Linked DNA regions of Homo sapiens: regions 1, 2, 3, 4, 5 and 7 are each linked to region 6. The links come from fine-mapping of genetic effects on gene expression. A gene starts in region 6. Each other region holds a variant in brackets. All regions are shown on one strand. Distances are from middle to middle.

What was found. PIP is the estimated chance that this variant, and not a neighbour inherited with it, causes the effect.
Region 1: its variant is fine-mapped to the expression of IGFBP7 in whole blood (TOPMed, PIP above 0.99).
Region 2: its variant is fine-mapped to the expression of IGFBP7 in whole blood (TOPMed, PIP above 0.99). The same link has a PIP of 0.9 or more in blood mononuclear cells, monocytes and monocytes after Pam3CSK4.
Region 3: its variant is fine-mapped to the expression of IGFBP7 in whole blood (INTERVAL, PIP 0.95).
Region 4: its variant is fine-mapped to the expression of IGFBP7 in caudate (GTEx, PIP above 0.99).
Region 5: its variant is fine-mapped to the expression of IGFBP7 in whole blood (TOPMed, PIP 0.99).
Region 7: its variant is fine-mapped to the expression of IGFBP7 in whole blood (TOPMed, PIP above 0.99).

The regions. Positions count from the first base shown.
Region 1 is chr4:57,154,517-57,158,581 of GRCh38, reverse strand. The region is part of intron 1 of IGFBP7-AS1 (IGFBP7 antisense RNA 1); the gene reads right to left. Among named protein-coding and RNA genes, the nearest start is that of IGFBP7, 46 kb to the right of the region's middle. RefSeq lists enhancers at 773-1,281, 1,282-1,791. The variant C/T (reference allele first, on the strand shown) is at 1,804.
Region 2 is chr4:57,049,023-57,053,087 of GRCh38, reverse strand. The region is part of intron 1 of IGFBP7 (insulin like growth factor binding protein 7); the gene reads left to right. Among named protein-coding and RNA genes, the nearest start is that of IGFBP7-AS1, 59 kb to the left of the region's middle. The variant C/A (reference allele first, on the strand shown) is at 1,908.
Region 3 is chr4:56,994,805-56,998,869 of GRCh38, reverse strand. It overlaps POLR2B (RNA polymerase II subunit B), which reads right to left. Exons shown (of 25, transcript NM_000938.3): 5 at 4,004-4,065; 6 at 3,461-3,619. Among named protein-coding and RNA genes, the nearest start is that of POLR2B, 18 kb to the right of the region's middle. The variant C/AC (reference allele first, on the strand shown) is at 1,611.
Region 4 is chr4:57,085,075-57,089,139 of GRCh38, reverse strand. The region is part of intron 1 of IGFBP7 (insulin like growth factor binding protein 7); the gene reads left to right. Among named protein-coding and RNA genes, the nearest start is that of IGFBP7-AS1, 23 kb to the left of the region's middle. The variant G/T (reference allele first, on the strand shown) is at 2,028.
Region 5 is chr4:57,042,122-57,046,186 of GRCh38, reverse strand. All of the region lies in intron 1 of IGFBP7 (insulin like growth factor binding protein 7), which reads left to right. Among named protein-coding and RNA genes, the nearest start is that of POLR2B, 65 kb to the right of the region's middle. The variant C/G (reference allele first, on the strand shown) is at 2,034.
Region 6 is chr4:57,108,162-57,112,226 of GRCh38, reverse strand. It overlaps IGFBP7 (insulin like growth factor binding protein 7), which reads left to right and starts at 1,842. Exons shown (of 5, transcript NM_001553.3): 1 at 1,842-2,350. The coding sequence starts at 1,876. It overlaps IGFBP7-AS1 (IGFBP7 antisense RNA 1), which reads right to left and starts at 2,465. Exons shown (of 5, transcript NR_034081.1): 1 at 2,257-2,465. RefSeq lists a silencer at 1,704-1,773.
Region 7 is chr4:56,976,688-56,980,752 of GRCh38, reverse strand. NOA1 (nitric oxide associated 1) reads left to right here and starts at 3,147. Exons shown (of 7, transcript NM_032313.4): 1 at 3,147-4,065. The coding sequence starts at 3,168. POLR2B (RNA polymerase II subunit B) reads right to left here and starts at 1,857. Exons shown (of 25, transcript NM_000938.3): 1 at 1,749-1,857. The coding sequence starts at 1,767. RefSeq lists enhancers at 1,484-1,583, 3,405-3,474, 3,855-3,914 and a silencer at 3,575-3,654. The variant G/A (reference allele first, on the strand shown) is at 2,204.

The sequences.
Region 1 (4,065 bases), 46 kb before region 6:
CAGGCATGGAACTAAATTGGGGTCTTGCTATTGGCCTCTTCTGCACAATGGCTGAGTCTTGAAGTGGGATATGGAAGGGAGTTTCCACTTCCCTAGGACTTCCTGGGACCCCTGAAGGAAGTTAGTCCACAGTCCACAAGAGGCCACTGGAGGGTGGATTTCATGGTTGCCACTCACAGAGGGAGCCGGTGGTGTTTCCCAGTTCCTTGATGCAGGCTTCTAGGCCAGACATAAGAGATTTCACATAGAGCAAACAAACTTCCAGTGCAGCGAATCAGTGGTGCCCTCTATGATGTGCTCAAATGATGCACATGCCCTCACTCTCTGCTGTTTTGAAATTATCCCAGGAGCTCAGAGAGCTGTGGACAGGGACACCTACCTGGCGTCTGCGTGGAATGATGCCAGGATCCATCACATTAGGAAGACATTTCCAAACTCATGTGAGGCCCTTGCAGCTGCTTCAGATCCTCTGCCCACCGCCTGCTCACCTTCAAATTTTCTTTAAGAGCAGCTTCTAAATGCTATTGGCATTTAGAAATCTGCCGTGTTCTCCTATTCTGTAGTTTGTACGTTGGTTTCCATTAACCTCTTTCCAAATGTTATCAAATTCATATCTCCATTTATGATCCATCAGCCTCTTTATCTCTCAGAAAGGCAACAGAGGAAAAAGAAACAAGCCCAAATGGCTTTTTTGGCTGCCCATAGCGTTCTTGGAAATCTGTTAGCGATGCAGCCAGTGCCTCCTCTCCTATTGTTGGTCCCAGCTGGCAGGCATGGGCTGACAGTGCATTCACCAGCATCTGTGTTGTTTTATTCTGCAGAATAAAGCCTGGTTCTTTTCTTCCCTCTACCAAAGTAAAAGAGAAGTCATGGGTAACTTGTACATTATCTGCGTGAGACAAAAATGTGTCGGATGCTTCCTGCTGCAGTGGGACTGGCAGAGAGAGTAGCAAAGGCACGCACCACTTCTAGGGCCCCTGCAGAGGAGCCACAAGCTCCCAGGACTGTGGAGAGGATGGATGGAAGAAGCAGGTGCAAGAGAAGAGGACAGATGGAGAACAGAAAGAAGGTGGAGAAAAGGTTAAAAAAAAAAGAGGATAGTTCTGGCAGCAGGGAGGAGACATGTCTGTTGGATGCCTATGTGGTAGGCATGAAAATGAGCCACCCAGACCATCCTTCAGGAAGCACTTGCTGTGCAGCTGCAGGAGGTGGCCAGAGCAGGCAGCCTCTGACAGCAGCTCAGGGGCTGCCTCTGCAGCTGGAGTTGCCTCACCCTAGAACACCTCCTTCTCAGGGAGCCAGGTCTGGTGACTGAGTGAAGCAAGGCTCTAAGGGCTGGCCATCTCAGCCCCTCATGGGACAATGCAGATGGACAATACTCACTGCAGGGCTCCTCGGGTTGGCCAAGGCTCTCCGGGGCCCACATTACAGCTCAACCTGTCCCTCTGCCCAGTTCTTGCTTCCCCCCGTTTCTAAGCGCAGGAGCTGATCCCTAATAAATGTCTTGCAACCCAAACTCCATCTCAGCATCAGCTTCCAAAAACCTACACTGCAATGGCCTAGATTTTATTGTACCAGATACTTTACATGTTACCCCCTTAATCTGCACTAATATATTTTTTATATATATATATATGTGTGTGCATATATATGTGTGTATATATGTGTGTGTACATATATATAAATTTGTCCCCTTTTGCATCTAAGGAAACCAAAGCTCTAAGAGGGTTTATAACTGGCCCTCGGGTCACATGGCAGTAGAACTGAGGTTAAACTGAGCTGATGCAGCATCAGTGTGTGATA[C/T]GCCCTTTCTACCACATCCTACCACGCTGGGCTTGCACATCAGAAGACCATCCAAATAACTGCTGATGAACCTGGAGGACACCAGAAAATCAGGGAAGGAGTGAGTCCCTTTAAGAAAACAGTGAAGATGGGAGGACACTGCAGTCAGTATCCCTTGGACAGTCCCTTGCACCAAAAATACTCCCCTCACCTGGCCGATTGCTGACTACAATTCCTTGCCTTCCAAAATTGGGGAGAAAAGCTAACATATAAATCCTGAGAAGCGTCTCACATGCACTTGCTGTACTCCTGTGGGTGAGTCACAAGCCCCAGGCATCCCTGTCTGTGCTTCTGTCATCCTCCACCTCACCTCCCTGCTCAGCCTGCCCTAGATCCCTCCTATCACCAAGGGAAGAAATCTGATAAACTAACTCCTTCGGAGTGACAATGTGTGTTTACATTTTGCAAGACAATTCAGGGAGGGGAAAATGTTTCACCCAAGCAGCCGGGCTCTGGGTTGGGAGGTCATCTTGAGGCAGGAGCATCATGACACTAGCTGTCACTTCATAAATTTGTGTTCGCAAGTCCAGCATGCCCGAAGCCATTTATTTCTTCCTAGTTATGTTGCCTGTAATTGGGATAAGATAAGGTAGATAATAGTCACTTACTAATTATCTAGTGGTAAAAATAACTATCCTTTACATAGGTATGGATAACACAGATATTTTCTAAAAGCCAAAATAGAGTTATTCATTAAGCAACATCAGTAAATACTAGACTCTAAAATATAATACACAATTAAGGTAAGTTTTTTAATAAAAATCATTTGAAATTTAATTTTACTAGGCTCTTAAATAAGTCCCTTTAATCTAAGCTTAGCTTCCCCTGGGCTGGATGAGCATGGCCCTGATTCCCTCACCCTGTGACACTGGGACACTGCTTTAGCATGCATCTACATTTCACCACCCTTGATGTTGGCAAGTCTGTGAATCCTCCATCCAATGAAGAGATCCAGAATATGCCGCTTCAAAACGTGCCACTTTGGCATAAGGATTATTTTGAGCTGAAGGCAATTGAGAATCAACAGATGCAGGAAGAGTTCTCTGCCCTCCTCTTGTCTGCCTAAAAGCAGGGTGTAAATTTCCCTTTGTGAAAGTGTCCCACCCTTCACCCCAATACCGGGGAGCAAAAGCAGTCATCACCAGAGACAGAGAGTTGACACCAAGAGGAGTCTGCAAAAACAGACCCCACTAAAATAAGGTTTTATCTTCCATTAGTTCTCCCATATATTTTTCAGTCACTTCCCTACCCTGTCTCATCCTCTGAAGCCTAAACCCCCTTTCTTTTGTTAAAATGCGATATTAGCCCTGGAGCCTAACTAACCACTTCTTTGAGTTTCACTTCTTTTCTGTGAACTCCCATGCACGTAAAATACGAATAAAACTGTATGCTTTTCTTTTCCTGCTGTTAATCTGTCTTTGTTAGTTTAATTTGAAGGCCCCCAGGTACTAAATATAAGAAAGTCAAAGAAACGCTTTTTCGTCTCCCACAACAACTACAAGCACCTTTTTTTCCCAAACCAGAGAGCCTCTTTGTTACTGCTGACAGCCTCCCTCTGTCATGTGTCTCAGGGACATCCTGCCTAATAATGCAGGCTGTCTTTGTTCTCACCTTCAAAGAAAAACACTTTCAGAAAGATCCAGCTACTGAGAGGGAAACCCCATAATCTCCTGGTGTCTTGCTTCTCCAGGAGCAGGAAACTTGAGACGTGGGGTAAGCACCAACCTGGAAGTCAAGAGGTTTGGGTTCTTTCCTGACTCTACTCTGTAACCTTGACATTAACCAGACCAGGGGTCAGTTCCTTTACAGAAGGAAGGAAAGGGAAAGAGAGAGAGGAGGGGAGGAAAATGGGGGAGAGAGGAGGAGGCAAGGGAAGGGGCGGGCAGGGAGAGGAAAGAGAAGAGGGGAGAAGGGGAGGGCAGGGAAGCAGCCAGGAGAGGTGATTCTAGCCCCAGCTCCTCTGCTTTCTCCCAGAGTCACCGCGAGCCAGCCCCTCACCTCTCCGAGTTTCCATTTTCCCATCTATAGACTGAGAGGAGTGGAAGGTGCCTAGATCAGTGCTTCTCAAGGTGTGGTTCCTCCACCAGTAGCATCAGCCACTGTTACCCCAATGCCAAAGGTCAGTCTAGGTCCTGCTGTTCACCACGCAGAATGCCAATCACTGAGACAATGACTATTACCAAAGAAGAAGGCTTTCACTTGGCTCAGCAGCCAAGGAGAACA
Region 2 (4,065 bases), 59 kb after region 6:
CCGAGATTGTACCACTGCACTCCAGCCTGGGCGACAGAGTAAGACTTCATTTCAAAAAAAAAAAAAAAGATAGAAAAGAAAGCATCATCAAATAAGAGATTTGTTTGCAAGCAACCAACACATTGCAAGAAGCAACTTTCTGTGCATGTTCTGTGGTCAATTCAAAATTACAGTGATAATTGTGAGATATCACAAGATTGACAGTCATCGTAGTGAGATATTTGAGTACTATGTCCACTTGAGAAAAACAGACTTCATGCTCCCTACGAAGATTCTCAGCATCAAAGATTGGACCCAAAACGAGGTGTCTTATTAATCCAGAGGTAACTAGCAATCAGCCAGGAACTCAACTCACAAGACCTGGGCACGCGGTCACCAGGGCAGCATTGTATTGAATGGTCTGCTCTTAGATGGACTGGCCCTGCAAATACGTGCCTGGAAGCTAAGCAAGGCCGTGCTATTCACTTATCTGCTTTACCTGGGGTGGGGTGGGGACGGGCCAGGTGGTCAGCAGTGAGCTGATGGAACTCCCTCTGGAGAAACTAGTGAGAGGGAGTGCCAAATCTGTCTTCCTTCCACCCAAAGGACCCCACATAGCCTTCCCAGGGCTAAAATGTCAGCTAGACAGTGCTTGCCTTGGCACTTCTGGTCTCCCCACTGGGGTTCAGTGCCTCCTCATGGCCCAGGTGATACCTGAAATTCAGCAAATTTAAACCCAAGTCCACCCTTTCCCCTTCTTCAATCCAGCACCTTCCTCAGACTGACACCCCTGCTTCTGTTCATGGTGCGGCAGCCTCCTGGAACCTTTGAGGCTCACAGCCTTTAAATCATGCCTCTCTTTCCTACATCCAGTCAGTTACTGGGTAGTGTTAGTTCTTCCTGAATAATCCCCCAAGTCTTCCCCTTTTCTCTGTCTTCTCATTGCTGCGACCTTGAGTTAGAGCCTTAATCCCCGCCATGTCCCATCCTGATGCGGAGACCTCCAAAATCATCTTGGGAAATGCCACTTGAATCATGACACTCCCACTTTCAGAGACACATTGGAGGGTGAGGCCCCACCTCATCTGCTTTCTGCTGTGCCCTACACCACACACGAATCCTCTTCCCGAGCTGGCCCGCATGCTCACTATTCAAGGCAGGCCAGCGTTTTCCTGCCTCTCCTCAGGCAGGTCCCTGTCTTTCACCTTCCTTGATGAAAGTCTAATTTCTGAAATGAAAAGCAACAGCTCATACTTACTGAATGTTTACCCCATGCCAGGTACTGTGCTAATGGCTGTATCTTGTTTGATCCTTTTGATGGTCTAATGACTGGGATACTATCATTCCATTTCACAGATGAATAAAGCAGGGGAAGTGAAATAACTTGTGCAATGTTGCATAACTCAGGAGTGGTAGAGCAGAATTCCTGATTCCAAGTCCACGCTCCAAAGTCACTATAGTCTATTACCTCCCAGCATTTTGTTCTTACTCTTAATGCGCTAAGCCTCCCCAACACCACCCCAACAGATTATATTTAGAGAAGAGGAAGCAGTTCTTACACACTTTTGCCCTAAACAGTGTTTGGCAGGGTCCCATTATTATAAACTATTGGTTCTTCATTCACACTAAAGTGGAAATGACTAACAGTAGCTTCCATAACTAGATGAATTTGCCTTAAACTAAAAGCCTGAGATTAAATCTGGCCTATGCTGCTTAAGCTGTTGTACTTTCTTCTCCTCCCCTGCTGTCCTCAGCCAGTACCCCTGAGACCGTGTGCTAGATTCCCATACCAGGGTTCAGCTGCTACATCATCCCGCCTCTGGAAGTTCCCTAAATGACTTGCCTTGGCAGATGGCTCTGCTCTTTAATTAGCCATACAGTTACTGCTTCCCCTTATTTAATATCAGGAAGCTTCCACTTGTTTCATC[C/A]CCTTCCCCATCTTGGCCATAGTGCCTTCCTACTATTCTTTTCCCGTTTTGTACTTTTGTGTGCTCCTGTTCCCTTTAATGTGTTATCAGAATCTCATCTCAATCTAGGGATTTTTGCCAAGTTGTCTGAACTCTCTATCTCCATATGTGGTATCTGAGGTCCTTCTTAAACCCTGATTTTCCCCTTATTTGGTATTAATGCACACACTATTTTCAGGACCCAGCATCAAGAGTCAAGGTGAGTGTTGTTTGCAAATCTATCATAACTCGGAGAAGTCCCCATACTCAAATGTCTTAGCCATGTTAGCATGTACTCAGCAAGAGGCCATGAACAGTGGCTCATGCCTGTAACCCCAGCACTTTGAGAGGCCGAGGAGGGAGGATCACTTGAAGCCAAGGGTTCGAGACCAGCCTGGGCAACAAAGCAAGACCCTGTCTCTACAAAAAAAAAAAAAAAATTCTTTTTTAATTAGCCGGGCATGGTTGCACTTGCCTGTAGTCCTAGCTCCTTGGGAGGCTGAGGCAGAAGGACCCATGAGACTAGGAGTTTGGAGTCTGCAGTGAGCTATGATCGTAGCACCATTGCACTCCTGCCTGAGTGACAGAGCAAGACTCTGTCTATAAAAACTTTTGAAAAGCCAGGTGCAGTGGCTTATGCCTTTAATCCTAGCTCTTTGGGAGGCTGAGGCAGGTGGATCACCTGAGGTCAGGAGTTCGAGACCAGCCTGGCCAACATGGTGAAACCCCATCTCTACTAAAAATACAAAAATCAGCCGGGCATGGTGATGGCTGCCTGTAATCCCAGCTACTCAGGAGGATGAGGCAGGAGAATCGCTTGAACCCACAGGGCAGAGGTTGCAGTGAGCCGAGATTGCACAACTTCACTCCTGCCTGAGCGAAAGAGCGAAACTCTGTCTCAAAAAAAAAAAAAAAAACTTAAATAAAAATAAAATAAATGTTCAGTGAGAACCATAATGTGAATAGTATAACCCAGCATGATTTTGGTGTGAGGATAATTGATAATCATTTTCTTCCAGCAGACCTACCCATCTCGGTGGGATTTGCTTCAAGTGATGTATATTCAAATTAATTTGCATCTCCTGGTCATATACTAATTGGTTGGTGAGTGGTTAGTAGCCAAGAAACACTGCTTATGGCAAGAGAAAGTCAAGTGAAAGATTAAAGAAAATCATGATTAATAATCTGCCAGCTGATAAATAAGATAGTTATAACACCACTTTGGTGAGGTGTACGCTTTTGGCCATGTGTACACTGGTGCATTTTCAAGACAGTGGCTATCTTTTCACTTCTGTTTGGCTAATCATGTTATGTTGTTCTGAAGTTACTGCTGCCCTATACCCACTTCACACAGCCTGAGCTCTGTCTCCTTCCAATGAACATGAAGATCTTTTGATTCCGTAGTTCCTGGTTCTGTTCTGATTCCGACAGGATGCTGGCATCCTCAATTAGGCCAGCTAAGGAAAGCATTAGAAAACAGTGATGCACTACACTCTGTGGAACTTACCGAAACCAACAGGATTTTAGAGAAGAAATAAGGGGGAGCCTGAAGCTGTCAGGCCGCAAAAAATGTCAAAGAGAAATGAAACTTCAGTCTTAGAATGTCAAATAAAGTGTGATAAGAAATAAGAGGAGGGAAGATATTCCAAGTAGGTAAGGGCATCAGCATAAGCAAAGGTGCTGGAAGGGGTAATGAACATGTAATGGTGGGTGAGCAGGACTGCTGGGAGCAGACAGTGAGTTTGGGTAGAAATGACATAGAAGAGTGAATTGGTAAAAATGGAAGAGATGATGGGCAAATGAGAAAGCAACGAAGCAAAAAATATATAGTACAATATGATATTGGAGGACAGAAATGATTATTGGGGGTAATTTGACTTTTGACCATTTCCCAGGCTTAATTCAAGTATATTTAGCTTTCAAACATGACTTCTCCTAATATCTTCTACACAGCTCTTTCAGATGAAAAAAAAATTGGCTAACTGGGTAAAGGGTGATACCTTTATAAGCTCTATTTTTTTAATCCCTGAGGAAGTGAACCATGTTATGAGTCACATACATCGTGTTTAGGTAGGTGAGGAAATGCATTGAACTGATTTGCAGAGAATGAGAGCTCCAGACCCAGACAGTGAGACTTCAG
Region 3 (4,065 bases), 110 kb after region 6:
GCTTCAGAACTCCTCTCATGGACTTGTTCAGTAACAACTTTTCATATATGACACCCAAATGTTTATCTTGATCTTTTTCTTGTACCCTCAGCCCCCATATCTCCAAATGCCAATTGGTTGTTTCCACCTGGACATCAATTATTCCATTTAGTCTATTATTTGTTTCATCATGGATCTTATCCCAGAACAAGCAGAACATTAAAAAATAATACAGCTGGGCACAGTGGCTCATGCCTGTAATCCCGGCACTTTGGGAGGCCAAGGCGGGAGGATTGCTTGAGCCCAGCATTTCAAGACCAACCTGGGCAACATAGTGGGACCTCATCTCTATAAATATTTTTAAAATTTTAGGCTGGGCACGGTGGCTCACAGGCCGGGCACAGTGGCTCACATGCCTGTAATCCCAGCACTCTGGGAGGCCAAGGCGGGTGGATCACCAGAGGTTGGGAGTTCGAGATCAGCCTGGCTAACATGGTGAAACCCTGTCTCTACTAAATATACAAAATTAGCTGGGCATGGTGGCACACGCCTGTAATCCCAGCTACTCAGGAGGCTGAGGCAGGAGAATCACTTGAACCCAGGAGGCAGATGTTGCAGTGAGCTGGGATAGAGCCACTCCAGACTTAGTCTCCAAAAAAAAAAAAAAAATTTAAAGAAAAAAAATGTCTACAACATGCACTCCCCAAAAATCTTATCTAAAACTGAACTTATTATGTTCTCTCCTAAATCAGTTACTCGAAGTTCACCGCTCTCCTGGAACCTCAGAATACAAATCATAGTATCTTAATTGACTCATCCTTTTATCTTATCAAACCTATCATCAAATCCAGATCATTTTCCTTTCTCTGTCTCTAATTAATTCATTTTGTTCAGAGTTGCCATGATAGTCTCCCTAATATACTGTTTATGTCTTTGCCCTCTGTCATCCAGGCCGATGCCTCTCGACAAAGAATGCACATCACAATCACCTGGGGACCTCTTTCAAATACTTGTACCTGGGCCCCATTCCACTCCCATTCTCACTATTGAGTCAGCAGATTTGGAAATGGGCCCCTTTTGTACTTGGAAGAGTCTTAGGTTATTGAGGTGAACCTTTAGTTAAGATCCACTAATCCAGATCCACCCTGATCATCTACTTGTCACTCACTATTCAACATACTTCATCCAGCTCAATTAGAGCTATCTTCCAGTGATTCTCCAAATACTCATCCCCACTCTCCTCTAATAAGAATGTCCTTCCAGTTTCTCTCTGCTTATATAAATCCATACCATCTTTCAAAGTGTAAGTCAAGTCCCATCTTCTCTATTAAGTTTCATGAACTGGTCAGGGGCGGTGGCTCATGCCAGCACTTTGGAAGGCCAAGGCAGGCAGGTCACTTGAGCTCAGGAGTTCGAGACCAGCCTAGGCAACATAGTGAAACCCTGTCTCTACAAAAAATACAAAAATTAGCCAGGTGTGGTGGAGCATGCCTATAATCTAACTACTTCGGAGGCTGAAGTACGAGAATCGCTTGGGCCAGGAGGTGGTGGTTGCAGTGAGCCCAGATCGCGCCACTACGCTCCAGCCTAGGCAACAGAATGAGACCCTGTCTCAGAAAAAAAAAAAAAAA[C/AC]TTTGCATGGACCACACCATACTAGTAACCTCATTCTCCTCCAAATTTCTATAAAACTGTTATATGTAATAGGTGTCATTTGGCCTCTGCACTGTGTTACTACCATTTAATGTCTAAAGCTTGTATTCCCAATAAAACCATTCTTTTTTTTCTCTTTTTTTCTTTTTGGAACAGGCTCTGGCTCTGTCACCCACGCTGGTGTGCAGTGGCGCCAATCTGGGCTCACTGCAACCTCAGCACTCAAGCCATCTTCCCACCTCAGCTTCCCGAGTAACCGGGACTACAGGTGCCTGCCACCACATCCAGCTAATTTTTGGGTTTTTGTTGTTGTTGTTTTGCTAGAGAAAGTGTTTTGCCATGTTGCCCAGGCTGGTCTCACATCCCGGGCTCAAGCAATCCACCCACCTCAGCCTCCCAAAGTGCTGGGATTACAGGCATGAGCCACCACACCTGGCCACCTTCTCAATAAGGATTGTGTGTTTTCATGATCTCTTAACAATACCCAGCAATGTTGTGCACATGGGAAGAATGCTTATCTTACAAATAAAATATTATGAAAAACATTCTTGAGGTGACAGGTATGCTAAGTACCCTAATTTGATCATTACACATTGTATACACGTATCAAAATATCACATTGCATCCCACACATGCATAATTATTAAATAAAATTGAAGGCCGGGCACAGTGGCTCACGCCTGTAATCCCAGCACTTTTGGAGGCCGAGGCGGGCGGATCACGAGGTCAGGAGATCGAGACCATCCTGGCTAACACGGTGAAACCCCATCTCTACTAAAAATACAAAAAAAAAATTAGCCGGGCGCGGTGGCGGGCGCCTGTAGTCCCAGCTACTCGGGAGGCTGAGGCAGGAGAATGGCGTGAACCCAGGAGGCGGAGCTTGCACTGAGCCGAGATCATGCCACTGCACTGCAGCCTGGTGACAGGGCAAGACTCCGTCTCAAAAAAAAAAAAAAAAAAAAATATATATATATATATACACACACACACACACATATACATACACACACACACACACACACACACACACACACATGAACTGAAATAGAGGTTTTCCAAGATAGCTGTAAAAATTAAATCAAGCAATCTGAGTAACAGAATTGGCATACAGCAAATATTTAAGAACTGCTAGCTACTACCAGGTTCCATTATTATAAGCAACCTATGCTTATAACTATACCAGTGGTCTGCAGCTTCTAAGCTGGTACCCAATGATTCCTGCCTCCTACTATTGCCCTTGTAATACCCTCTTTAGTGTGAGCTGGACATACTGACTTGCAACCAACAAAAAGAACATGGCAAAAATGACAGGATGTTGCTACCACTTTTAAGTTATAAAAGACTGATTTCCACCTTGCTCGTACTCTCTATGGCTCTTTTTGCTTACTCTCTCTGAAGAAGCAAGCTGCTATGCTGCTGTCAGCTGCTATACGCAGAGGCCCACATGGCAAGGAACAAAGAAAGGCTTCCAGCCAACAGCGAGCAAAGACCTGGGACTCAGTCCAACAGCCAATGAAGAACTAAATCCTGCAGACAACCATGGGAATGACTCTTGAGATTACGGCAGCCCAGGGAAACATCTGATTGCAGCCTTGTGAGAGTTGCTTGGCCAAAAGACCCAGCTAAGCTACACCCAGATTCCTGACTCACAGAAGCCGTGAGATGATAAATGTTGCTAGAGGAGTAATTTGTTACACAGCGATAGGTAAACAATACGATATATAACAACAATATGCTCCAGAAAAGCTTCTATGGACAAAGAAGGCAGTCTAGTAAATTTTAAAACAAAGCACAAAGGAATAAACCCAAATAGCATCATATCCAGTCCATACCTGTCCTCCTCTTGCCAGCATGCTAACCCATATAGTACTGGTGGGTCGGGAAGAATTCTCAAGACATGATCTACACTCTCCTGTGTAGGCATATTTAGAATCCTTTTTGGCAAACACATAAACTGTGTTTGTTGCCATTTTCTCTTGGGCAATCAGAACCTATTTGGACAATAAGAAAGTTACAGCCATAAAATCCAAAACATCACTGAAGAGAAAAGAGAGTAAAATCTGCATCTTAATTTAATCTGACCATATAGGCTCACTGAAATATTTAATTCTTCAACTTTACAAACTCCATTTTGCATAAATGCTTCATAGAAATACATAAACTCCAAAACTGACCAAATTCCCAGTGCATGTTATATACAGCTAAATAAAGCTTTGGTTTATATAAGTTTAGCTGTCATACCCTAAACAAGTCAACTGTCAGTGCCAGGTTATCCTGCAGGAAAATCTTTCTTTCTTTTTTTTTTTTTTTTCATTTCAACTTTAAACTAAATTTTAACTACCATTTTGTAATTTTTTAAAATAATGTTACTATACCTTTTCTGATCCATTAATAATGAAATAGCCACCAGGATCCAAAGGGCATTCATTTAACTCAC
Region 4 (4,065 bases), 23 kb after region 6:
GATTAATGTTTTGGAGAGGGTGGGGTTCAAATCCCCACTCCCCCACTTACTAAATGTGTGATTATTAAATGACAAGTTGCCTCTCTTTTTTTTTTTTTTTATTTTTTTGAGACAGAGTCTCACTCTGTTGCTCAGGCTGGAATGCAGTGGTGTGATCTCCACTCGCTGCCACCTCTGCCTCCCAGGTTTGAGCGATTCTCCTGCTTCAGCCTCCCAAGTAGCTAGGATTACAGGTGCCCAACACCACACCCAGCTAATTTTTGTATTTTTTTGGTAGAGATGGGGTTTCAGCACGTTGGCCAGGCTGGTCTCGAACTCCTGACCTCCAGATGATCCGCCTGCCTTGACCTCCCAAAATGCTGGGATTACAGACGTGAGCCACCGTGCCCAGCCAGCAAGTTGCTCCTCTTAACCTCAGTTTTGTCATCTTTAAAGTGGGGACAATATTGCTTACCCAAAGGGTTGGTGAGAGTATTAACTTCATATGAGGTTCTAAGCATAGTGCTTGCCACACAATAGGGTCTCAATCTGGCCGTTGCTTTTATCATTAGTAGTAGTGGCTAATGCTTCAGAAACAGCCCTCAAATGTCATACTATGGTACTTTTACCTTCATTCTTCCCTCTTTTTCTGGAGGGATAACTAGAGATGGGATGAAGGGTAGAAGCAGAAACTGAGAGTGGTAGGAATGATTGGATGGTATTATATGGAGAAAATGAGGGCTGTTCTTGCCCAAACTGGTCGGAACCTCAATATTTTTATATACTTACAATTTATAGCCTACCTTATTTTAACATTATATTTGTGGCAGTTTACATCACCATGCTTTTCAGATACAGCAATAGTGCTGTAAAAAGCACTAAACTGCCTGGGCATGGTGGCTCACACCTCTAATCCCGATACTTTGGGAGGCTGAGGCAGGAAGATCACTTGAGACTAGGAGTTCAAGACCAGTCTGGGCAACATAGTGAGACCCTGTCTCCACAAAACAAAACAAAACAAAAGATTAGCCAGGTGTGGTAGTGCATATCTGTAGTCCCAGCTACTCAGGAGGCTGAGGTAGGAGGATCACTTGAACCTAGGAATTTGAGGCTGCAGTGAGCCGTGATTGTGCCACTGCACTCCAGCCTGGGTGACAAAGCAAAGCCCTGTATCAAAATAAACATAAAGTACTAAACTTAGAAGAAAAGAGTCTGAATCCTCCTGCCTCAGCCTCCCAAAATGTTGGGATTACAGGCATAAGCCACCACACCTGGCCAAGCATCTGAATCCTGACTATACATTGACTAACAGTGATCATTGGCACATTGCTTAATCTCTTTGTCCCTCTGTTGTCTCACCTGTGAAATGGAGCAAGCAGGACCTGTATTAAAGGATTAGGGTTAGGGTTATGGAAATAAACGAAGTCACAGATTTGAAAGCCTTTGTAACTGTTAGGCCTTTATGAATCCAAGATTGTATTCCCTCTGACTTTACCAACTATTGTAGTAACAACTCTCAAATATGCCCAGTCAGTTAACTGATATAACCTTGCGTATAGCTGTGTCAGTTATTTACTTTTTTCCTATATACCTCTGGTCCACTCCTCCCCTTCAAATCACTATCAGCAAGTAGTGCCCAGGGACTCCTGTGTTATAACATTAGCCAGAACCAAACAGTTAGTAAGGAATCTGCTACAACAAATTTATACAGAGCAAAATATAAAGTATTTTAAAATTGGCATCCTTTTGAGATAGTCTGTTCCTCTCCTGCCCTTCATTAGTTGGGTACTCAAGGGTTGGCAGTGTTTTCCCATCTAGAAGCTCATGCTGCATATTGACCTGCAAAGGTATTAGTCCAGGTACCAATGGCAACTTTTATGTTATCCATCAATCACTTTAATGAGTACAAGAAAGCATCCTATCACCCTGCCAAAAGACAGAGGAATTAAGAATGACTCATTTATCACTTAAATGTGTGAGTGTTTTCTATGTGTCAGGTGCCATCCTGGTGCTGTGGGGCACAGAACACAGACTCCAGTTTCCAGGGG[G/T]TTACCGTTAAATGGGGCTGAAGCAGCAACAGTGTGTCGGTCTCCTGTATTCAATCTCCTCATAATAACTGAGCCACTAGATCAGGAGCAGTGGCTCACGCCTGTGGTCCCAGCACTTTGGGAGGCCGAGACAGGTGGATCACCTGAGGTCAGGAGTTCGAGACCAGCTTGGCCAACATGGTGAAACCCAGTCTCTCCTAAAAATACAAAAATTAGCTGAGCGTGGTGGTATGTGCCTGTAATCCCAGCTGCTCAGAAGGCTGAGGCAGGAGAATCGCTTGAACTTGGGAGGCGGAGGTTGCAGTGAGCTGAGATCGCGCCACTACACTCCAGCCTGGGCAACAAGAGCGAAACTCGGAATCAAAAATAAAAATAAAAAATAAGATGGTAAAATTTGTATGTGTATTTTACTACAATTTTTTAAAATTAGAAAACAAAAACGTAAATCCTCTAGATACCAAAACCCAAGCCCCATGGAAAACATTTACCACAAAAAGGTGACAAGCTATCCCCACAAATGCCAAAATATAAGTGGGTTGGAACAAGCCACCTATGCCACCAAGCCTGCAGGCTGTCAGCAGCTAGGTGGAAAGACACAGAGGGCAGTAATGAGGTGATGACAGATCCAATAATAGGTAAATCTCAACATAGCCAACAGGTTTTCACTGGAAAGTCCATTAGTGGGTGAGTGCAAGGGACCCAAAGGGTGGAAGGGGCTTGAGTAGCCTGGGTCCCGTGAACTCTCAAAACCCCCAGCCGGGGCTCCTGATATGGTTTGGCTGTGTTCCCACCCAAATCTCACATTGAATTGTAACTCCATAATCTCCAAGTGTCATGGGAGAGACCTGGTGGAAGGTCATTGAATCATGGAGGCAGGTTTTTCCCATGCTGTTCTCATGACAGTGAGTAAGTCTCACGAGATCTGATGGTTTTATAAAGGGCAGTTCCCCTCTGCATGCTCTCTTGCCTGACACCATGTAAGATGTACCTTTGCTCCTCCTTTGCCTTCCACCATGATTGTGAGGCCTCCCAAGCCATGTGAAACTGTGAGTCCATTAAACCTCTTTACTTTATAAATTACCCAGTCTCAGGTATGTCTTCACAGCAGTGTGAAAATGGACTAATACAGCTCCCTTCCAGGACAGGGCCCTTCACCAAAGAAAAACTACTAGGAATAGAATCAAAATTGAGCAGGACAGAAACAATAGAGATGAATGAAACAAAAGACCAAATAAAAGTGAAGGAGGGAAACAAACCCAGAAAATCACAGAAAGCAAGTTACTGTTTTTAACACTAAATGAAAACAACACAAAATGGAGTTCTGAGGAGTTGCAAAAAGGTATTTTGGACAATGTCTCCTTGTAAGGCTGTGGAAAACCAATTTTACATTTTAAAAAAGCACAGAGAAAGATTAAGGCCAAACCCCATACTAGAAAGAAATTTTATATAAGAGAAGAGTGAGAGAGAGAAAGGGAATAACATCCCTACCTGCAATGAAAGCACGTCTGCAAACAGGTGAAAACTACATACAACTGACTATCTGAATAACATGAGCTAAAAGACATTTTTTAAATAATACAAATAAAGAGTAACAAGCCAAAATTAGAATAACTCGAAAATGTGGTGAAGATCTCAGTTGTTATTTCAGAAATGAAACCAAAAGAAACACAATAGCGAATAAGAACAATAGAGAATCCCTTAAAAGACTAGGAGGTTAAAAGGAGGAAAATTATTAAATTAAAAAGAAAGGAGGAATGATCAAAAGCAGCAACCACTGAAGATATGCAGAGCAGATCTAGCATACGGATAACAGGAGTCACTGAAGAAGGAAACCAAAGCAAGAAAGCAAGCCAACACTAAAAATTATAACTCCAAAAAACTTCACTGAAATACAAGAAAAATGTAGAACTACATTTTGGAAGACCAGACAGTATACCTGAGAATATGGATCTAGAATGACAAATACCTATTGATATTCTAGTGAAAACAATACTGCACTTTAAAGAAAAAGAAAAAAGGATCTAGGCCAGGTGCAGTG
Region 5 (4,065 bases), 66 kb after region 6:
TCCACCGAAAACATTTTCAGCATCTCTTCTCTTCTATACAAGACTTGTCCTCTTGGTGTCCCTGTGGGTCACCATTAAGTCGCTTGCTTATTCTTTCTCACCATGTATCTTCATTTACCTTTCTCTAAAACTTCTGTAATTTGCTTTTATCAAGAGATTTTGGTCGCGTGCAGTGGCTCACACCTGTAATCCCAGCACTTTGGGAGACTGAGGTGGGCAGATCACCTGAGGTCAGGGGTTCAAGACCAGCCTGGCCAACATGGTGAAACCCCATCTCTACTAAAAATACAAAAATTAGCCAGGCATGGTGGCGAGCACCTGTAATTCCAGCTACTTGGGAGGCTGAGGCAGGAGGATCGCTTGAACCCACGAGGCAGAGGTTGCAGTGAGCCGAGATCACACCATTGCACCCTGGGCAACAAGTGCAAAACTCCATCTAAAAAAAAAAAAAAGGAGTTTTTCCATTCCCTCTGCATATTCTGGGGGAATTTCCAGACCAGGTAAGTGGTAAAGAACCAATCAGAGCTTAGTAAATAGGTATCCTACTGGGTATCAGCTCTGAAGAAAGTACTGGAAAGAATGTTGAATCCCTACAGATTCTTCCAACACAGGAAGTCACGTGGAGGCCAACCCGCCTCCATGTACTCTAAGAGGTCTGTTTGGTCCCTTGAATATTACACTAATAATTTATTGATGTGACTTTCCTTTGCAAGAGACTGCATCTCAAAACCAAAAGGCCGTTCTGTAGCCTTATTTCTTAGCACTTTCCAGTTTACGTATTGTTTGTTAAACTTTTCATTGTGTTAGTAAACCCAGCATTTGTTCAAGGATATTTGAAATAGTCAAAGGTTTTTGTAAATGTTGTGCAGCAAACTGGTCCTAACAGCCCCTCCTCTGCCCTTCCACTACATCACCCCAGCAGGAGTCAGTGGATATTATAGATTTTTGTGGTATGGAAGTCTTGTAGAATTCTAGAAATAGCCTGGTGGCAGGATTGACAAAATCATTTACATTCTTAGAATAATCCAAATGTTGACTCAGCCTGTTTACCTAAGGTATTCCAAGCATTGGGAGAGAGAAATAGGAACCCATGATATGATTTGTCCTAATATTGAATCCCCTGACGATGGCTGTCATTCAAAGTATTCCTGGGTTCAGGTATTTTTAAAGAATTCATGGCTGGGCACTGTTGCTAACACCCATAATCCCAGTACTTTGGGAGGCTGAAGTAAGAGGATTACTTGAGCCCACGAGTTTGAGACCAGCCTAGTCAACATAGCAAGACTCTGTCTCTACAAAAATAAAAATAAAAAAAGAATTCTTACTTGTCCTAGAGTGTTCTGCTTCTTGGAATAGTAAGATGATTGGGGGGGAACAGATATATTAGATCTGCCCTCTATTTAGTGCTTCAACTTTAGTACAATTAATTTCTAAATTATGCCATAGTTATTGGTGCAAAGATAGACACATAGACCAGTGGAAAAGAACAGAGAGTCCAGAAATAGACGCACACATATACAGTGGGTCTTACAGATTTCCACAAAGGCATTATTATGATTCATTAGGAAAAAGATGGTCTTTTCAACAAATGGTGCTGAAGCAATTGGATGTCCTTTTAGGGGAGGAAAAATGAAACTTGACCTCTGCCTCATAGCACACACAAAAATTAATTCAAGATGGAGCAAAAACTTAAATGTGAAAAGTAAAACCATAAAGCTTGTAGAAGAAAACAGGAGATCTTCATAGCCTTGGGCTAGGCAAAAATTTTCTTAAACAGGACACGAAAAGCACTAACCACAGAAAAGAAAACTTGATAAATTGGACTATACTAAAACTAAGAACATCTGTTTTAAAATCCCATGGGAAAAATCCATAGCATGTCTTCAAGATCTCTGGCAGAAAATCAGGCTGGAACTTGCCCATTAGCACTCCAGAATCTGCCCCCTGCCCAAGACCGATGACCCTGCTACCTGTATTGGCAATAGGGAGATGGACACAGGTTAAAGTAAGTAGGTTTTGGCAGGGCTGAGGCC[C/G]TCAGATCCTCACAATAAAATTGTCTTGCATTCCTTGTGTGGTTTGGATATGAGAGAAGCAGCTTTGTTCCCGAGCTCCCCCTCAAATCTCTGAAAACTGGTATGCTCTTCTCAGAACAATCCTTTGAGATCCCCTGAGCTTTGAAGTCCTCCTGCCAAGTCTGTGTGTGGGAAGGAGAACAGAGCAGCATGAGGGCCATCAGAGAGGTGGGCGAAGGCAGTTCAAAGCCCAGCCAGATCCGGCTCTGTGGTGTCCAAACCCTTGGGGTCCCATAGCCCTAGAGGAAGCCCGGGATAGGGTGAGGCCCAGCCCTTTGCAGGGTTCTGTATTGCTGCATCCAGACTAGGAAATGTCTGAGACAGAGCCAGAAACGTAAATACTGCACCACTGTGCTCACCACATTCATGTTTGCAGCAGAAGAGCCAAGCCCCCTGGCCAGGATATATGCTTCCTATTCAGACCTATGGTTTGGAGGGAAGGAAGCATGAAATGTATTTAGAGCTTTCCAAACTTTTGATTGTTTTGCACATTCCTACAAAAATAAAAATATCCCATGAGATTAAAAAAAATCAGCTTCTAATGCTTTAGATGAGTGGGAAAATCTTGCACACTGGGGTCATTTCCTTTCTGTTTCAAGAAATTAATATTGTGCTGGAAATAGCCTGTTGCAGAAGGGGAGACTTTATGTCCTTTGAATGCTGATTATGCCAGAAAACTTTCCAGTCCTAAAGGGGAGGTTGTCCCTTTCCCAGGACTCTGATGCAAGATGACCCTGCAGTTTGTACTTTGCTAGGATAGGAGACCCAAGTCAGCAGAGATTTAAAATTCAGAAGGGATCATTAATTTATTCATTCAAGAAACCATGCTAAGCATGGAATAAGAGCCAGGTTAGGTTCTGGAGTCTCACACTGCCCCACATGAGGATCCCAGACTGCCAGCTCCATGACCCTCCTCTGCGGACGGTCCCAAGTCTTTCTGAAGGCCCCTGGTGATTGAACCCTGGCATTCAGAATTAGCAGAAGTGACATACTAATTACCAGTAACTAAAAAGTTGGTGTTCACATCTCTATTGCAGATGCCGGGAAGCCAGGCCGTCAGGGGACAGGCGCAGTCAGCAAGCACCCGCTCTCTCGGTATCTGTTGGCTTCCACAGTTTTGTGTTTCAGAGCCAAACCAGAAATCACCCAGGGGGTTACTTGCATCAGCTCTGGAAAATGTGTAAAGGATTGAAGTCCTGAGACTTTCCCATAATGTCTTATTTAGGCATCAGTCTCCCTCAGTTGATTAGAGCAGGAATCAGCAAATTTCTTTATAAAAGGCCAGTGACAGTGACTATTTTAGCCATACAGTCTCAGCCACAACTGCTCTAGCAGCCAGAGACCACAGGAAACAAATAAGTGTGGCTGTGTTCCAACAGAACTTTATTTTATGGACATTTCCTTTACAATTTTCACACGTCATGAAATATCCATCTTTTAATTTTTTTTCAACCATTTGAAACTGCAGGCCGGGCATAGTGGCTCACGCCTGTAATCCCAACACTTTGGGAGGCCAAGGTGGGGGGATCGCTTGAGCTCAGGGGTTCGAGACCAGCCTGGCCAACGTGGCAAAATGCTGTTTCTACTGAAAACACAAAAATTAGCTGGGCATGCACTTGTAGTCCTAGCTACTTGGGAGACTGAGTCATGGGAATTGCTTGAGCTTGAACCCGGGAGGCGGAGGTTGCCGTGAGCCAAGATCATGCCACTGCACTCCAGCCTGAGCAACAGAGTAAGGTTCTGTCTCAAAAAAATAAAATTTTTCTTAATTTAAAAAAACAAAAATCCAAACACCATTCTTAGCTCATAAGCCATGCAAAAACAGATGGCAGGCCAGATTTGGCCCACAGGCCATAGTTAGCTAACCCAGGACCAGAGAGTCATACCACTTTCATAGCAAAAAGGATACACATGGTTTGTGTTGACTCTGAGTAGGGAACTTCTCCAGAGGGTGCCATGATACAGAAGGTGGGGGGTGTGTTCCCTAATTGGG
Region 6 (4,065 bases):
TCTTGACCAGTGAATTAATAAAAAGGAAATCAGGGCCGGGCATAGTGGCTCACACCTGTAATCCCAACACTTTCGGAGGCCGAGGCAGGTGGATCACTTGAGGTCAGGAGTTTGAGACCAGCCTGGGCAACATGGTGAAACCCTGTCTCTAGTAAAAATACAAAAATTAGCCGGGCATGTTGGTGCATGCCTGTAATACCAGCTACTCGGGAGGCTGAGGCAGAAGGATTGTTTGAAGCTGGGAGGCAGAGGTTGCAGTGAGCCAAAATCTCACCACTGCACTCCAGACTAGGCGACACAGGGAGACTTCATCTCAAAAAAATAAAAAAAAGAAAAAGAAAGAAAAGAAAAGAAAGAAAGAAAGAAATTAAATACAATAGGAAATAGAGTGCACTCTGCATTTGTTTCCTTTTCAAGAAAACAAATGGGTCATGTAAACTGCATCTCTTAGGATGGAACAAAGACAAAAATATTTAGGGAAACTCTGCTGTAAAGATTTTTCATTGTTTTTTAAACAACTGTCAGGTCAACATATGACCTTTGAGGGGAAAAAAAATGCTCCACTTGTCTATAATACACTAAGGAGAGGCCAAAAAGCAGTGCTAGGTTTTTCTGGATTGGAGGATGTTTCCCCACTCTCCACCCCCCGATTTTGTGGTCATTTAATTTTCAAAAAATTTGCAATAATTATCCTTGTAAGAGTCTGTTGAGAATGAGTTCTTTACACTGCTAATGGGATTATGAACTGAACTGCTGGCTTTCAGTCAGCAACCCTGTAAATCCCTGGATTTATGCTAAGAAAAAAGAACACAAAAGAACCACAATGTGACATGCAGAATAATGCACGCTGCAATGTTACACATTCAGTTAAAAAGTGAAAGCAACTTCCATGTCTGCATTGGAGAGGCCAGTGTTCCTGGGAAGAGAGGCTTTCAAGTTGAGTTTGCAGAGCACTTCGCAGAAAGACTGAGGAAGAGTCCACCGTTTATATCAAAAACCTCCTGGAATGCTGGTGAAGACTGGGGGCGCTTTAGGTGCCTCCGTGGCAGCTCCAACGAGGAAGGAGCTGGGACCCCTGCTCCTCTCAGCTGCGCTCTGTTCTCCCGAGAGGCTTGCTGGAGGGCGAGCAGTTCAGCAAGAACTCAAAACAAGGGCACAGCTCTCACACGGATTCCAGTACTCACTGAAAACGGCTCAGCACAAAAAAAGCACAGAGTCTTGTTGAATGCCACTGGGAGACAAAGCGGGGAGGGAGGTGCAGGCAGTTAAGAGGTTCCAGAAAGGGAAGTGGTTGGCAACGGTTTGTCCTTTTAGTGCTTGACACCCAAGACCACAGCAGGCCTGTGGCCAGCGGGGACACAGTCCACAAGTGGGGGTTTTTAACAGCTTGTTCTTAAGAGAGCTTCCCAAACCACAGAGTAATGAGCACTCAGGTGTCTCAGGCCCACGGAGGATTTAATAGATGAAACCCTGGATCGTCTCGAAGCCGTGGTTGTTAAGAAGTTTAAATATATTGACCGGAAACGGGGAGAAACCAGAGGGTGGAAGAGCCGCTCGCACTGCGGTGCGATCCCTGAGGGCTCGGGGCAGGGGACTGGGGACCGAGCAGGAGCTGGCGGGGTGAGCTCTGCGAAGCGGGCGTGAGACCGAGCGCCCATGGGCCGGTCACGCCGGGTGCCCGCTCACCCCCCGACGCCAGCAGGAGCGCGCGCGCAGGCCCCGCGGGGCCGGGAGGGCGGCACGGGCGGGGCCCCCGTGCTCTCACCGCCCCGGGGTGTGGTTCCCGCGGACAGGCCGGGCGGGGCGGCGGGTTTAAGGCGCCGGCCGGCCCGACACGGCTCACTCGCGCCCTTGCCGCTGCCACCGCACCCCGCCATGGAGCGGCCGTCGCTGCGCGCCCTGCTCCTCGGCGCCGCTGGGCTGCTGCTCCTGCTCCTGCCCCTCTCCTCTTCCTCCTCTTCGGACACCTGCGGCCCCTGCGAGCCGGCCTCCTGCCCGCCCCTGCCCCCGCTGGGCTGCCTGCTGGGCGAGACCCGCGACGCGTGCGGCTGCTGCCCTATGTGCGCCCGCGGCGAGGGCGAGCCGTGCGGGGGTGGCGGCGCCGGCAGGGGGTACTGCGCGCCGGGCATGGAGTGCGTGAAGAGCCGCAAGAGGCGGAAGGGTAAAGCCGGGGCAGCAGCCGGCGGTCCGGGTGTAAGCGGCGTGTGCGTGTGCAAGAGCCGCTACCCGGTGTGCGGCAGCGACGGCACCACCTACCCGAGCGGCTGCCAGCTGCGCGCCGCCAGCCAGAGGGCCGAGAGCCGCGGGGAGAAGGCCATCACCCAGGTCAGCAAGGGCACCTGCGAGCAAGGTGGGCACGAGCGCTTCCCTCTCCAACCCTGCGCCGCTCGGCCCAGCGAAGGGCACATCCGACGGGGCGTCCGCGGCGGCCTCGCCCCGCGCTGCTCACTGCGATTCCCCCGCGGGCATCCCAGGAGCCAGATGGGAGGGAAAGAGTTGGCAGCCGCGGAATGCCAGGAGCGGTGGGCGACGCCCCCCCTTCTCCTTTTTGGTGGTTTTATTTTGAGAGTTTGCTGCGTGCGTCCAGAAAGTGAGGGCCGGGTGTATATGTAGAAAAGATTTTCCGAGACCTCAGACTTCCCCATGCCCAAAGCGCACCCAACTCGTGCTAACATCTGTCCATTTCTCATCATTCTTGGCTTGGGGATGTAGAGAGAGGTGAAGTCAAGAGATGGGGGAAAGGAGTTTGACAATTAAATATAAAGTAAGGACTTCCAGACAGACTTTTTTTTTTAAAAGATAGGATCTTGCTCTGTCGCCCAGGGTGGAGGGCAGTGGCACGATCTTGGCCCACTGCAACCTCTGCCTCAAGCGATCCTCCTGCCTCAGCCTCCCAAGTAGCTGGGACTATAAGCCTGTGCCACCACGCCTGGCCAATTTTTGGTTTTTTGTTTTGTTTTGTTTTGTTTTATAGCGACGGAGTTTCACTATGTTGCCTAGGCTGGTCTCGAACTCCTGAGCTCAAGTAATCCCGGCCTGCTGGGATTACAGGCATAAACCACCGTGCACAGCCCTGATTTCTTAGTATTGAAGAAAATAGTCCACTTTCTAAAAATTATAGGTTCTCAAACAGTAATCTAACTAGCTAATTATTTGTGGGCAAAAATAAAATACAAACTCTTTGAAGACTGTTTTTGTGATGCACTTTGTTGTCAACCTTCTGACCATTTTGTTTTTCCTTCCTATTTCTTTGATTTGTATTGTTTTGCATAATTTGTCCCCAGGATACACTGTTCAGCAGAAATGTCTTTGAGATTATGTTTGATTGTTTATTTTATTCCAAACAAGTCCAAGCTTGCTGTAAATGAAATAAGGAAATAGGCCGGGTGGGTTGGCTCACGTCTGTAATCCCAGCACTTTGGGAGGCCAAGATGGGCAGATCACGAGGTCAGGAGTTCGAGATCAGCCTGACCAACACGGTGAAACCCCATCTCTAATAAAAAATATATATATATACATTAGCTGGGCATGGTGGTGCATGCCTGTAATCACAGCTACTCAGGAGGCTGAGGCAGGAGAATCGCTTGAATCTGGGAGGCGGAGGTTGCAGTGAGCCGAGATCACATGACAGCACTCCAGCCTGGGTGACAGACAGAGACCCCATCTCAAAAAAAAAAGAAAGAAAGAAGAAAATAAAGTCTGGACTTGCAAATACACGCACATACACACACACATAGAAATTTTAACTCTAATGCCTGAAATAACATTTTCCATTGGCAGTATTTTCAAGGGAAAGTCAGACATTCAATGTTGGCAGCTCCTGATCTTAGCCAAGGTAGAAAAGGGAGAGGAGGCAGTTCTGAGGTTACAGAAGCTGTTGCTTCTTTAACACAGTTCAGACTTTCTCCAGAATTTCCAAATTCTTTCTTTAGAGCTTTTCCCAGAAGTCCACAAACTAATAGGTTGTATGTCATCAATTTCAGAGTTCACTATTGAAAGCCTTAAATTGTGTAACTCACTAGTAACTATTTATAGTATCATCACCTTAAACTTAGAAAATTGCAA
Region 7 (4,065 bases), 130 kb after region 6:
AGTTCAAACTGGGCAGATGGTGGGTAAGAAGGAGACGTGACACTTTAACTTGTTTTTTTTGAGACAAGGTCTCACTTTGTTCTCAGCTCATAGCAGTGTCAACTTCCCAGGCTCAAGCGATCCTCCAGCCTCAGCCCCACAAGTAGCTGGGACTATAGGTGAGCAAGACCACGCCCAGCTAATTTTTCTATTTCTTATAGAGAGGGGTCTCCCATGTTGCCCAGGCTGCTCTCGAACTCCTGAGCTCAAGTAATCCACCCGCCTCAGACTCCCAAAATGCTGGGATAACAGGCGTGAGCCACTGCACCAGCCACCCCACTTTAACATTTTTAAATTTTCTGGCTTGTGAGCTATGAGAATATATTACCCAGCCAAAAATTATGCTTTAAAAATCTTTTTTTTCGAATTTTTCTTCTACTGAGATAGTAGTTAAAAAAGAACAAGGAATATAATGATGCTAATAAATTTCTACAACACAAGATATAAATGAGACAGAAGTTTAAACAGCTTTAAAAGTTTAAGCTTTTGGCTGGGCACATTGGCTCATGCTTGTAATCCCAGCACTTTGGGAGGCCGAGACAGGCAGATGGTTTGACCTCAGGAGTTTGAGACCAGCCTGGGCAACATGGCCAGACCCCATCTCTTAAAAAAAAAAAAAAAAAATTAAGCTTTTGCTTCAATTTTTTCCATCTGATTTATCAGAAGTACCTGAGGGAATAGAGAGAGGAGATGTAGGGGGTGGCCAAGGAATTGAGAGCTATAAGAAAATAAGGTTTGAATTAGCAGATATGGAGAATGGAAAAGGCGGCTACGAAAATACACTAGACTCAACTAAGAATTTTTTTTTTTTTTTTTTGAGACAGTCTAACTCTGTCACTCAGGCTGTGGTGTAGTGGTGCGATCTCAGCTCACTGCAAACTCCGCCTCCTGGGCTCAAGCGATCGTCCGGCCTCAGCCTCCCGAGTAGCTGGGATTACAGGCGCACGCCATCACACTAGGCTAATTTTTGTATTTTTAGTAGATACAGGATTTCCCCATGTTTGTCAGGTTGGTCTCAAGCGATCTGCACATCTCGGCCTCCCAAAGTGCTGACGGGAGCCACCGCGCTCGGCCACTACTAAGAATTCCATATGCGCAAACAAACAGGTATTATACATTGGCCCAGTGCAGCAGAATACATATCATCTGAGAACTGTGACATTGTGAGAAGAGGAAGTTAAAAGTCATCCTTTAAGACAATTTACTTTGACTTACAAACAGTATGAAGAAATGTCAGACTAAACCGAGTCCCCCCCGCCACCCCCACCCCCCGATATTCTCTGTCCCGGAATATTTCCAGGACCTTCCACACTGCCTGACACAGGCTGACACTCAACAATTGAGCTATTCGTTAAGTCGACTGTGGCTTTAAGGAAAATTTTTAAAGGGTGCCCTTTGCTTCAAATTCAAAACGTAATTTATCTTACGATTCTGCACGCTACTTCACCACAGGAAACGAGGATCAGATCTAACGGAACGAGAAAGTGCAGAGAGCAGCAGTGAACGTAACCTGGAACATTAACACTATGTTCCCTGCACCCTCCGCCTCTCCCTACCCCAGTTTCGTTCCCGGCCTGGTAAGTGTGGGAACAAGGCTGGGGACTGTGCAGCCGGCGCATGGGAAGGCCCCAAATCCTCAATCCAATCAGTTCCCAACGCTTTCCTGCTTAAATGGACCGCCACGGCGTGTGTTTTGAGCGTTCACCTACCCTCATCCGCGTCGTACATATTGCCAAACGGTTCTCGAGCTCCTAACTCTTGAAATCAAAAGACAAAAACCGCCCAGAAGCCAGCAGCGCCAGGAGCTAAAGACGAAGTAACTTCCGTCTCCGACGTTCCCAGAATACCACGCGTCTCACACCAAAGGCCGCCCACAGGGACGCCAAAGTTAGGATCTGCGCCTGCGCAAATTGTAGGTCAAGCTTGGGCCGGGGTTAGGGTTGCACACGCGTAAATTGTGGGCCGCCGCTGCCGGGCTGATTGAGAGGACAGCTCCCGCAATCTGCGGTCGTATCCGTTCCGTCAATGTTTTATTTCTGCTTGTTTTTCAATGTTGTTGCACAAATAACGACACCTGAAAACAAAACCAGGTATACTTATTATTAAAAAGTGTTCGTCCTGTGAATCCGCAACATTGGGATGCTCAATTTATTTGCCTTTATAA[G/A]GACCAAAACACGAAGCTATTTTTTATTTTTATTTATTTATTATTTTTTGAAATGGAGTCTCGCTCTGTCGCCCAGGCTGGAGTGCAGTGGAGCGATCTCGGCTCACTGCAACCTCCGTCTCCCGGGTTCAAGCGATTCTCCTGCCTCGGCCTCCCAAATAGCTGGGATTACAGGCAAGGGTCACCACGCCCGGGTAATTTTTGTATTTTTAGTAGAGACGGGGTTTCACCACGTTGGCCAGGCTGGTCTCGAACTGCTGACCTCAGGTGATCCACCCGCCTCGGCCTCCCAAAGTGCTGGGATTACAGGCGTGAGCCACGCGCCCGGCCGGAAGCTCCTTTCTGTTTTTGTTTTGTTTTGTTTTTTTGAGACAGGCTCGCTCTGTCGCCCAGGCTGGAGTGCAGTGGCGCGATCTCGGCTCACTGCAACCTCCGCCTCCCGCGTTCAAGCCATTCTCCTGCCTCAGCCTCCCGAGTAGCTGGGACTACAGGCGCCCGCCACCACGCCTGGCTAATTTTTTGTATTTTTAGCAGAGATGGGGGTTTCACCGTGTAAGCCAGGATGGTCTCGATCTCCTGACCTCATGATCCGCCCGCCTCGGCCTCCCAAATTGCTGGGATTACAGGCGTGAGCCACCGCGCCCGACCCCGGAAGCTCCTTTTTAAGTGTGATTTATTAAGGGCGGCTTGTGCTAGCAGTGAGGCGTTAAGCCTGAAAGTGAAAAAACCCAAAACACTCACTGCTCTTTTCTGCCCACCTAGCTCAATCCTCCAGTGCCTTTGCCATAGCTTTAAGTAGGTTCTCAGTCTCAGAGCTTAAATCGCGAGAACTGACGGGATTAGACGCAAAACCAACCAGGACAGCTCCCAAGTACCCACGCGCTTTCGTCTCGGGTCAAATGCGCGCCTCGGACCCTAGTGCGCGTGCGCGCTGGTGGCTCCGCCCCTTTGGAGCTACTTCCTCATGCTGCCCGCTCGCCTACCGTTCAGGCTGCTGAGCCTTTTCCTTCGTGGATCCGCTCCCACGGCAGCGCGCCATGGCCTCCGGGAGCCGCTCCTGGAGAGGAGGTGCGCTGCCGCCTCCTCCTTCCAGCACTCATCGAGTCTGGGACGCGAGCTTCCTTATGACCCCGTGGACACGGAGGGCTTTGGAGAAGGTGGTGACATGCAGGAGCGTTTTCTGTTCCCGGAGTACATCCTGGATCCGGAGCCGCAACCCACCCGCGAAAAGCAGCTGCAGGAGCTCCAGCAACAGCAGGAGGAGGAGGAGCGACAGAGGCAGCAGCGGCGGGAGGAGCGGCGACAGCAAAACCTACGGGCCAGGTCCCGGGAGCACCCGGTCGTGGGGCACCCGGACCCGGCATTGCCGCCCAGCGGCGTGAACTGCTCGGGCTGTGGGGCAGAGCTGCACTGCCAGGACGCCGGAGTGCCCGGCTACCTGCCCCGAGAGAAGTTCCTCCGCACGGCGGAGGCAGACGGCGGGCTGGCACGGACCGTGTGCCAGCGCTGCTGGCTGCTGTCGCACCACCGGCGCGCTCTACGCCTGCAGGTGAGCCGCGAGCAGTACCTGGAGCTGGTGAGCGCCGCGTTGCGGCGGCCCGGCCCCTCCCTGGTGCTCTACATGGTGGACCTGCTGGACCTGCCCGACGCCCTGCTGCCCGACTTGCCCGCGCTGGTGGGCCCCAAGCAGCTGATCGTGCTGGGAAACAAAGTGGACCTCCTGCCCCAGGATGCTCCTGGCTACCGGCAGAGGCTGCGGGAGCGACTGTGGGAGGACTGTGCCCGCGCCGGGCTCCTGCTGGCCCCTGGCCACCAAGGGCCACAGCGCCCCGTCAAGGACGAGCCACAGGACGGGGAGAATC